Linked DNA regions of Homo sapiens. The protein of the gene in region 1 purifies or fractionates together with the protein of each later gene. This does not show direct contact. Each region holds a gene or a part of one and is shown on either strand. Other genes may lie near its edges. The genes, in order: GPRASP3, KLK15 and SLC25A25.

Region 1 (3,729 bases):
TTACACATTTTCCTTACCTTATGTAAAGTGCTGATTTACTGTGAGCCAGAGGAATACAGAATTGACTATTCCTGTTTCTGCTCCTTTTCCCTTGCATCATGTGGATTACTGTACCCTCCCTCTTCCCCTCTAGCCTGCTGTTTCCATTTAAATATTGAAGCCCTCAAAATTATCTTTGGATAAAGGCACAGACCACAGACTGTTTCTGTGATTCCATGCTCTTTTCTTCTGGGAATGTCTTCACCTTGGCAAAATAAACTTCTAAATCAATTGAGACATGTCTTACATACTTTTTAGTTTACACTATTGACCTATCTTCAAGCTCAGGAGTCCCCAGCCCCTAGGCCACGGACCTGGACCCGTCCATGGCCTGTTAGGAACTGGGTCACACAGCAGGAGGTGAGTGGCGGGCTAGCCAGTAAATCTTCATCTGTATATACAGCCACTCCCCATCACTTTCATTGCCGCCTGAGCTCCGCCTTCTGGAAGATCAGCAGTGGCATTAGATTCTCATAAGAGCACAAACCGTATTGTGAACTGCACATGTGAAGGATCTAGGTTGCATGCTCCTTATGAGAATCTAATGCCTGATGATCTGTCACTGCCTCCCATCACCCCAAGATGGGACCATCTAGCTTTACAAAAACAATCTCCGGGCTCCCAGTGATTCTACATTATGGTGAATTGTATAATTATTTCATTATCTATTACAATGTAATAATAATAGAAATAAAGTACATAATACATGTAATGCACTTCAATTGTCCTGAAACCATGCCATTCGCCCCCCAGTCTATGGAAAAATTGTCTTCCACGAAATCTGCCCCTGGTGCCAAAAAAGATTGGGGACTGCTACTCAAGCTTGCTGAGTCTTTCCTCAACTGTGTCCAGTCTACTGATAATCCCATCAAAGGCATTCTTCATTTGCTGGAGTGCAGTGGCACAATTTCGGCTCACTGCAACCTCCACCTCCCGGGTTCAAGCGATTCTCCTGCCTCAGCCTCCTGAGTAGCTGGGATTACAGGCACCCGCCACCACGCCCAGCTAATTTTTGTACTTTTAGTAGAGATGGGGTTTCTCCATGTTGGCCAGGCTGATCTTGAACTCCTGACCTCAGGTGATCTACCCACCTCAGCCTCCCAAAGTGTTGGGATTACAGGCGTGAGCCACTGTGCCTGGGCTCTGTTACAGTATTTTTGATTTCTAGCATTTCCCTAAATATTCTTCTCAGGGAGAGTTTACATTTTGCAGCTCTTTTAACTGTTATTCACTGTTATCCACTATTATTATAATAAAGCCTTGTTAGCATGGTGGTGAAGTGCAGAGGAGAGGAAGTGTTCTATAATATTATGATTAAATTTCAGTCTTTTGTGGGCCTGTGTCCCTGGGCTTTGATTTTCATAAGAGTTTTATTTTAGCGCCTTTCTCTCCCTTACATGAGACTAGAAACCTAAAGGGGGCTGAAATAGGAGAAACGCCTTTCCCTCAGCTGAGATAAGGCTCTGATAAAGTCTTTTCCACCACAGAATAGGCTTTTTTTTTAAAAAATGAAGAAGGCTCTGGGTGTATTTCACAAAAGTACAGTTCCCTTCCCACTGCAGGGGCCATGAGGCCCTTCACTGCAAGAATATGGTGGGTTTCTTGGAAGTAATGCCCACAAAAGTGTGGGGACCTCCCTGACTGCAGATCCTCAGGGGTTTCTCACTCTCATATTATTCCACACTCAGTCTCCAGCAATTCATCAAAATTACATTTAAGTGCTCTTACCTATTTATGTCTCTAGCAGTTTCTGTTCTATGAAAGAAGAAATAGGCTGTGACTCTCTGGATTTGCCTTCAGAATTTGGGGTAGTCAACTGTCCTATGCCTCAGTTCTTTGAAGAATCTAAGAAATGTTGTTGATTCTGTTTGTTCAGATTTTTTTCTGGTTGTAAGTACAGGAGCAATGACTTACAAGTTCTTACATGTTGGAACTGAAACTGGAAGTCTGGCTATGGGTTTTAACAGGGAAGCTAAAGAGCAGTGAAAAATAAAAAATAAAAAATTTAAAATGGGCTGGGTGTGGTGGCTCACACCTTTAATCTCAGCACTTTGGGAGTCCAAGGTGGGAGGATCGCTTAAGTCCAGGAGCTCAAGAGCAGCCTAGGCAACATAGCAAGACCCCCTCTCTATTTAAAAAAAAAAAAAAAAAAAAAAAAAAGCAGTGCACATTGCTTTTGTCTGCTTCTTTTCTGCTGAACATCACATCTGGGAATTAGGTTGCCCTGGAAAACCCAGCTGCTCCATAAATATTAGCTCTTTTCACTCCCAGGTACAGGAAATTTATGGGGCTCCCTGAACCTGACATCTCAGCCCAAAAATTTGTAATGTGCAATGCAAATTAGACTTTTGACCTCCTGAATCAAAATTCCTGGTAATGGCCATGCACAATGGCTCATGCCTGTGATTCCAGCACTTTGGGAGGCCAAGGTGGGAGGGTCACTTGAGTGCAGGAATTCAAGACTGGCCTGGGCAATGCAGTTATACCTTGTTTCTACAAAAAATCTTTAAAAATTGAAAAATATATATATTATTGGTAATGAAGTCTGAGGAACTGTAACTTAATGCTAGGAGAGAAAAGTTGTCTATGTCACTACCACCACCACCACCATCAAGAGGCAGTGCATGATACTATTAGAATCTATAGTTTACATTAACTGCCTAATGATTGTTAAGTGCTTGCTTAGACTAGAGTAACTAGTTTCTGAGCCCTGGGAGTACATTCTAAAGGGAGTTTGTACAGAAGAGTTGGGAGTACCCAGATTTCAGAGCCAGACAGTCCAAAGTCTGAATACAGACTTTGTCACTATTTGTGTAACTTTAGCAAAGGTACTTAACGTCTTTATAACCCAGTTTCTTCATCCTTAAAAGGGAGCTGGCATTAACTACTTTACAGGATTATTGTGTATACTGAGAAAACTATTTGATATCCTGCACAACATGTGTATATCAGATCTTTCTAGTTCTTTTAAAATTTCTGATCTATTCCTATTATGGAGTGGGCTGGAGAAAGCAAGAAAGAATAGATGAGAACTACATGGTTTTTAAAGGTCATAATTGCTAAGTCAGTGTCACTGTGCTCTTTGTGCTGTAGCCTCAGTGCTTTGTATATTCTGTGTTGCTTACCATAACCCTTTACTAAAAGGATGCCATTTTTGCATAGTTGCCACTGCAGGTTACTGACTTTCTCCTCCTTTTAGTCACATGTCACAGAGAGGCTAATTCCATTTCCAAGAGTGAGTCTCTTTGGTCTACGGATAATCTATCCCCTTGGTACTCTCTTGTTTAGGAAGAGGCATTGATCAAATTCCACTCAATGTGACATTAGGGGAAGGTTACAGATGGACTTCTGAGGAAAGTGTCCTCATTCATAAGACAAAGTCATCAGAAAAGATTGTCTTTTCTTCTTCCTCAGGAAGTTGCTTACCTCCTGGAATTGTTGTAGCCATCAAGCTATCAGCCTTAGGACGGAAGTTGATATTGTGAATGGCAGAAGAAAGAGACGGAAAAAAGCTGAGTCCTTCGCTGAATTAAACAACCATCAAGGCTGCCCTACGTCAGTACTTACAATCATTGGATAATTAATTTCCTTATTAAGTTAGTTTTAGTTGAATTCCTTGTTATATGAAAATGGAACAATCCTAGATGTGCTCAGGCACAAAACAGCTCTTCAGTGAGTAAGAATTCCTGA
Region 2 (3,122 bases), on another chromosome or scaffold:
TTGGGTGTCAGGCAAACTCCAGATTGAACTCAGCTGCCACACACCAAGAAATTAATTGTAACCTGATGCCTCTCTTCTGGAGAAATTGGGGGGTGGACTTTCATTAACGTTCTGCCACAAATGACCCTCACTCCTGGGGGCCCCTGAGACCCCCACGCCTCCAGCCTCCCCTCCGGCTCTCTCTGTGCACTCACCTACCTGCCTCGCGCCTGCCTGCTGCGCCCAGCTGGGGCCTCCACCTTCCTCTGGCTTGGACTGGCCAGGTGCAGCCTCGGTGCCCAGCTGTTCAGCCCGTACCCTCCGCCCTTCGGAGGACGACCTCACCCTTCCTTTGTTAAGCCCCTTGTCCACCACATCCGCATTCCCCTGGTCTCACGGGGGCCTTTGGCCCAGTTCCTGACTGTGATGGGGAGAGTGTGGGCATTTGGTCTGGCTGTGCAAATCCTGCCCCTGTGTGGGTGGGAGTGTGCATGGCTTCAACCTTCAGGGGATGCATCCACATTGCCCAGTGGAGAGGGGTCCTGGTCCTGTGACCTTGAATGTCTCTAATCATGTCCTTAAGCATAATGCCATTCTGTGTGTGTGTGTGTGTGTGTGTGTGTACATGCACGTGTGCAGTGGGTATACAAGGCCCTGTATGTTCACATCCTCTCCACATGCATGAGCCAGATCCCCATATGTGAAACCCAATCAGTGACTCCACAGATCTGGCTTGGGGGCTGATCTAGAGATGGATAAATATGTCCTGCCCTGGCTGCCTCTGGCTTCAGCTGCATGTCTTTGACCTTGAATGCCCAGCCCCGTGTCTGGGTGCTGCCCCAGACAGCAAGTCCACATCTGAGTGTTGGCCTTCTGGGTTGGTGTCTGCAGCTCTAACTCTACAAAATGTCTTGTGGGTGAATCACGGTTTTAACCTTGACTTTTTTTTGTTTGTTTGGTTTTTTTTGAGACGGAGTCTCGCTCTGCCGCCCAAGCTGGAGTTCAGTGGTGCAACCTCAGCTCACTGCAACCTCCGCCTCCCAGGTTCAAGCAATTCTGTCTCTGCCTCCCGAGTAGCTAGAATTACAGGCACGCACCACCACGCCCAGCTGATTTTTGTATTTTTATTTATTTATTTATTTATTTTTTAGTAGAGACGGGATTTCACGATGTTGGCCAGGCTGGTCTCAAACTCCTGACCTCAGGTGATCCACCCACCTCGGCCTTGGCCTCCCAAAGTGCTGGGATTACAGGCGTGAGCCACCACACCTGGCCAACCTTGACTATTTATTATAGGTAATTCTGTGCAGATGTCTGACTTATGTTGGCCATCTCCAGGATGGACCTGAACTTTCACACGTATGTCCCTGTGACTAAATCCAGGTGTCATTTGCAAAAAACAACTAATATTATTAAGTAGCTACCAGGGCTAGGTATCACTCACCATACATACACACATGCACACACACACATACACATTCCTACCTCATCCTTACAACAATCTTCATTTTACAGATGAGGAAACAGAGGCACAGACAGGTCGAATAACTTACTCAAAGTTTCACAGCTAGTACATTCGAACCCAGGCTTAAGGACCCATCTTTGTCCAGACCCTGTATGCAAGTGTCTGTGACACTGGATGCCAAGACTCACACTAGAGATGTTGAATTTAGGTCTGAACAATATCCAATTCTGTGTGTGTGTTTGTGTGTGCATGTGTGTGTGTGTATGTATTCATGTCTTAACCATCCATATTCATATACACATATGAACATCTGTGCTGTGATTCTTTTTTTTTTTTTTTTTTTTTTTTTGAGATGGAGTTTCACTCTTGTCACCCAGGCTGGAGTGCAATGGAGCAACCTCCGCTCACTGCAATCTCCGCCTCCCGGGTTCAAGCGATTTTCCTGCCTCAGCCTCCAGAGTAGCTGGGATTACAGGCACCCGCCACCATGCCCAGCTAATTTTTTGTATTTTTGTTAGAGACAGGGTTTCCCCATATTGGCCAGGCTGGTCTCGAACTCCTGACCTCAGGTGATCCACCCGCCTCGGCCTCCCAAAGTGCTGGGATTACAGGCATGAGCCACCGTGCCCAGCCTGTGCTGTGATTCTTGAAGCTGCAACCCATGTGCATGCAAGTGAATTTCAGCTTCCAGTCCTGTCCATAGCTGTACCTAAGTGTGGAAGCTGGATGTGCATGTATGCATGTCCATGACCTTGTATAGCCACATCTGGGACTCATACTGCACACTGAATTTGGCTGACATGTCCAGACTCTGGGGCCAAGGCTGGGTCACACATACTGAGTGGCCACATGCGTTTGACGTCTGTGACAATTTGGTGACCGTGAATGACTGGTTTCAAGTGACCACCTGTCTGAACCTGTATCCAGTGCCCCTGTCTCCACCCCCAACCACAGAGGACTTCTTGCCCTCTGGTCTGTTCCCCTTCCTCTCTCTCCCAGAGTCTTATAGCAAATGGGGTGGGGGCTAGAGTTCTGGAGAAAACAGGCAGCGGTTGTAAATAAACAACAGGGCAGGCGGAGCATGGTGGCTCACACCTGTAATCCCAGCACTTTGGGAGGCTGAGGCGGGCAGAGCATTTGAAGTCAGAAGTTTGAGACTACCCTGGCTAACATGGTGAGACCTCGTCTCTACTAAAAATACAAAAATTAGCCAGGTGTGGTGGCGGGCACCTCAGCTACTCGGGAGGCTGAGGCAGGAGGATCACTTGAACCCAGGAGGCGGAAGTTGCAGTGAGCTGAGATCATGCCACTGCACTCCAGCCTGGGCAAAAGAGTGAGACTCCGTCTCAAAAACAACAACAACAACAAACAAAAACAGGGCAGGGTGTCTTGAGAAGTTAGGGGAAAGGCATAGGCATATAGTAGTTAGGGCAGGGTGCAAGGAAGGTGTAGGAGGCAATGTAAACGTCCCTGTCCTCAGGCATCCTCTACCCCTTCTCTTAGCAGCCCAGGATGGTGACAAGTTGCTGGAAGGTGACGAGTGTGCACCCCACTCCCAGCCATGGCAAGTGGCTCTCTACGAGCGTGGACGCTTTAACTGTGGCGCTTCCCTCATCTCCCCACACTGGGTGCTGTCTGCGGCCCACTGCCAAAGCCGGTATGAAGGCAGGGGCTCAGG
Region 3 (3,500 bases), on another chromosome or scaffold:
TGGGGACGGAGGGTGTTCCTGGAAGAGGAAGCCTGTGTGTGTGAACGATGGGGCTGTTCAGGTTGGCTGGAGTGCCAGAACATGGGGAACATGCGGACAGCTCTACTGGGCTGGCAGAAGAGGGGACAGTCTCCTGTGGAAGAGGAGGTGGCTGGAAAGCCCCAGCTGCACTCTGGGATGGGGACGACTGGGTGACTCTGGGCTAAGGGTCCCTGGGAGCAGATGAGGGCCCTGGGCACGTGGGGCTCACCGTGGAATGCTTCCAGTAGAGGATGATCTCGGGGATGTTTTCCACGGGGTGGAGGAGGTGGTAGTCTCTCCACTCGTTCCAGTCAATGGTCATCGTGCCGTTTTTATCCATGCTGCAAGACAGAGGCGAGGCTGCCCACGTGCCCACATGCCCATCCGCCAGCTGCATCCCCCCACCTCCCAGTGAGCCAAGGGCAGGCATTCGGATGCCCAGAAACCACACGAGGTGCCTCTGCCCCCAGGAGAAAGAGCAGGGGGCTCCACACCCCACTTAGCACAACAATGGCAATATAATGGCCCACAAGAATCCCGCTCTGATCAGGCATGGAAGTCAAGGGAGGCAGTCATGAGCGACATGGATACTTACTAGGTGACAGGGCCCCAGAAATGGCCCGTTCGTATTCTGACAGACAGACAAAGGATGCGGAGGAGAGAGCAGAAACAACACGCATAAGTGCTCGGAGCCATGTTAGTGAAGCAAGCACACACCCAGAGACAGGGGCACAGCACGGCACGAGACGAGCCCGCCACAGCAGCTGAGCCCAGGGCTGCTGTCCCCGAGGACCAGCCAGTGTTCAGACCGCAGGGTTTCCGGAAGGTCCAGCCAGGACAGACGGCAACTCCCAGGGCTGTTCCATGAGATTTCCTGGCAGCCGCCCCGCACCAGGGAGCTATCTTTTGGGGCAGCGCCTCTGACTAAAGTGTTAAGTGCAAGTTACCAGCATGGGGAAGAAATTCACCTGGGAACGAGGCTGCAGTGTGAGCCCCCCGCCCCGCCCCGCCCCCTCCACACGCACAGGTGCTCCTTGCTGGCCTTTTACCTATTTGAACCACCCCCAAATTAGTTTTCCCTTCATGGGCCACTGGCCGATGGGCAAAATTCCAGGTGATCTGTGATTCTTCCAATGAAAGCAGGCCTGCAACCCTGGGGAGGGGCTGGCCTCCCACAGGGGTTACTTATTCATCCTTTCAAACCACGAGAAGGCCAAGTTCAGGGTCAGCCCAGGGAATGGCATCGGAGGGTTAGTCTCAGAGCCTTCCCTTCATCACACTTAAACCAAACACAGAGGCTGGCTGAGCACTCACCTCTTGAGAATTTTTTCTGCCTGCTGTTCAGATATCTTGACTCCCAAGTCCCGCAGGGACTGCATGATCTCCTGCGCGTCAATGCGTCCTGCAAGAACAGAGGCCGTGAGCAGGAGCCAGGCGCACGGGGAGGCCCGAGGCTGGACCGGCCACAGCTCTGAAGGCAACACTTACCATCATTCTTTTTGTCCAAACTCTTAAACACCAGCCTCAGCTTCTTCTCATGATCTTGGAGATAATGGACAAATTCTTCAAAGTCTAGCTGCCCATCAAGGTCCTTATCTCCAGCTTGTACAATTTTCTAGAAAAGAAAGGTAACATTTTGTCTTTTGGCTCCTGGACCAGCCTTTCCTTGTCCCTTGTGGGGCCCCATCCCCAGGCAATGACTTCACTAATTGCGAGCAGAGCTGGCCCCAAGGACCCAAGATGCTTCTGCTCCACTCTCAGAGCCACCATGGCAATCGACTTACATGCCAGAGCCACCACCTAGAACCCCAGGTGCTGGCCAGAACCCAGGCAAGGGCCAATCTTGTCTCCCTCTCAAGCAGAGAGGAAACAAGGAGCCTGGGAAGAGCCCTCCGGACAGAGGCCGACAGGGACAGCTGGGCACTTTCTCAGTCTGAAGACCTGCGTGCCGTACAGCCAGGGTGAGCAGGGTGGCTTCGCTGCAGCGCCGTCCCTGGGTCCCTGGACCCAGGCTTCAACCACACATGCTCCCTGCTGAGACTTGGGGATGGCCATGGAGTCCAGTTTCTGACAGGAACTCTGCAGCTCGCTGTTTCTCTCCTAAAACTGGCATTGGTCCGAGAATAATTTGGTGGGCAGGTGAAAATCGGGGGCAGAGCCAGACTCTGCCACAGCACCCGAGGCCGGGGAAGTGTAAGGAGCCAAGGGCATGTGTATGATGGTACTGCCAGTCCCTGCTCTCAGGGAAGCCAGGTGATAGAGCTGCCCTGGCTCTCCCGCTCACTCACTGAAAAGCACTTTAGTGTCCCAAGAAGGCTTTGAGAGACTGTTCCTTGGCAATGAGGTTCCAAAAGTAACCCCCCCCGCCCCCGCCTCCCAGGAGGTGGGCTTTGTTCAGCAGCTGTTAATGGTTGGCAACTGGGACAGCTCCACGAGAGCACACATTTCCCCAGCACCTAGCACCGGCCGCAGGGCGTGCCAAATGCTTTACTTCTAGCAACCCACTTACCCCCCTCGCAAACAGCTCTAGGAGGTAGGAAATGTCATTTCCCCCATTTTACAGAGAAGGAAACAGGAGTTCCGAGAGCCTAAACATTTACACAAGGTCAGACAGCTAGGGAAGTGGTGGGCGGGATGCAAGTTGGGCCGTGGTCCTCCCAAGCCGCCTCCCTGCACATCCTGCCGCCACCCTCAAGGCTAACCTTCAGAACATGGGGGATGAAAGTGAGTCACCCCAACTCAGCAACGCCCTGAATCCGGAACCCAAAACTGGGACCGAGAATCTCCCAAGGAAGATGGTATAGTCTTCCTGTGTCCTCCGGATTTCTCACTGGGAGAAATCAACTGACAGCCAGCTGGGGTTTGGAAATGGATGGCCCACTGGCTAGCTCGCGTCCTCAAAGGATCACCACCGCGCCTCTCTCTTAGACACACTACTGACAGCGCCTTGTGATTCCTCAGCTGCCAAAGGTGTCAGGGGCAGGGAGGCCTGAACAGATACCCCATGACCTGGCGCGATCAAAAGGCTAATGTGAGGGGCGTGGCTGGAATGTAGGACAGATGCAGGTACATATTTTATCTGCTGAGGTTACATTTAACTTCCTGTGGACATCTGTGCTCTCAGACAAGAGTGACATAAATCACCTATAGGGTGACTGCTCCAAATCTCTAACAGGAATGGAAATAGAGTGGACAAGCCATTTAGGCAGGAGGCGAACATCAGGCATGGAGCCCTCTGGGACCCAGCCGCCTGCTGCCAGGGTGAGCCACATGCCTCCCTGGGGTGGGTGCTGTCGCAGACACCCAGAGCAGAGGGTGTGCTCACCGCAGCTGGCTTCAACGCATTCTCAAAGTGCTTGCTTCTGCCTCACAGGGCCTGGGCCTCCTTCTGTCTCCTTCCTTGGATCTGCAAATCCCCCTTGGTGCACAGTGGGCACTGGGGGTAGCAGGGAAACTGATTAACCGAGAAGCCGAGGTGG

The links.
Region 2: the proteins of GPRASP3 (region 1) and KLK15 purify together in Homo sapiens (co-immunoprecipitation; one large-scale study listed by IntAct). This does not show direct contact.
Region 3: the proteins of GPRASP3 (region 1) and SLC25A25 purify together in Homo sapiens (co-immunoprecipitation; one large-scale study listed by IntAct). This does not show direct contact.

The regions. Positions count from the first base shown.
Region 1 is NC_000023.11:102,727,040-102,730,768, reverse strand, and holds part of GPRASP3 (G protein-coupled receptor associated sorting protein 3), read right to left. Parts: intron 1-3,729. UniProt on the Homo sapiens protein: Survival and differentiation promoting protein that plays a role in the regulation of neurosynaptogenesis. Induces phosphatase PP2A activity which results in APP dephosphorylation and inhibits BACE1-mediated processing of APP.
Region 2 is NC_000019.10:50,827,641-50,830,762, reverse strand, and holds part of KLK15 (kallikrein-15 isoform 4 preproprotein), read left to right. Parts: intron 1-198; exon of another isoform or gene 199-233; intron 234-2,947; coding exon 2,948-3,101; intron 3,102-3,122. UniProt on the Homo sapiens protein: Protease whose physiological substrate is not yet known.
Region 3 is NC_000009.12:128,099,232-128,102,731, reverse strand, and holds part of SLC25A25 (mitochondrial adenyl nucleotide antiporter SLC25A25), read right to left. Parts: intron 1,637-3,500; coding exon 1,510-1,636; intron 1,424-1,509; coding exon 1,336-1,423; intron 653-1,335; coding exon 617-652; intron 363-616; coding exon 251-362; intron 1-250. UniProt on the Homo sapiens protein: Electroneutral antiporter that most probably mediates the transport of adenyl nucleotides through the inner mitochondrial membrane.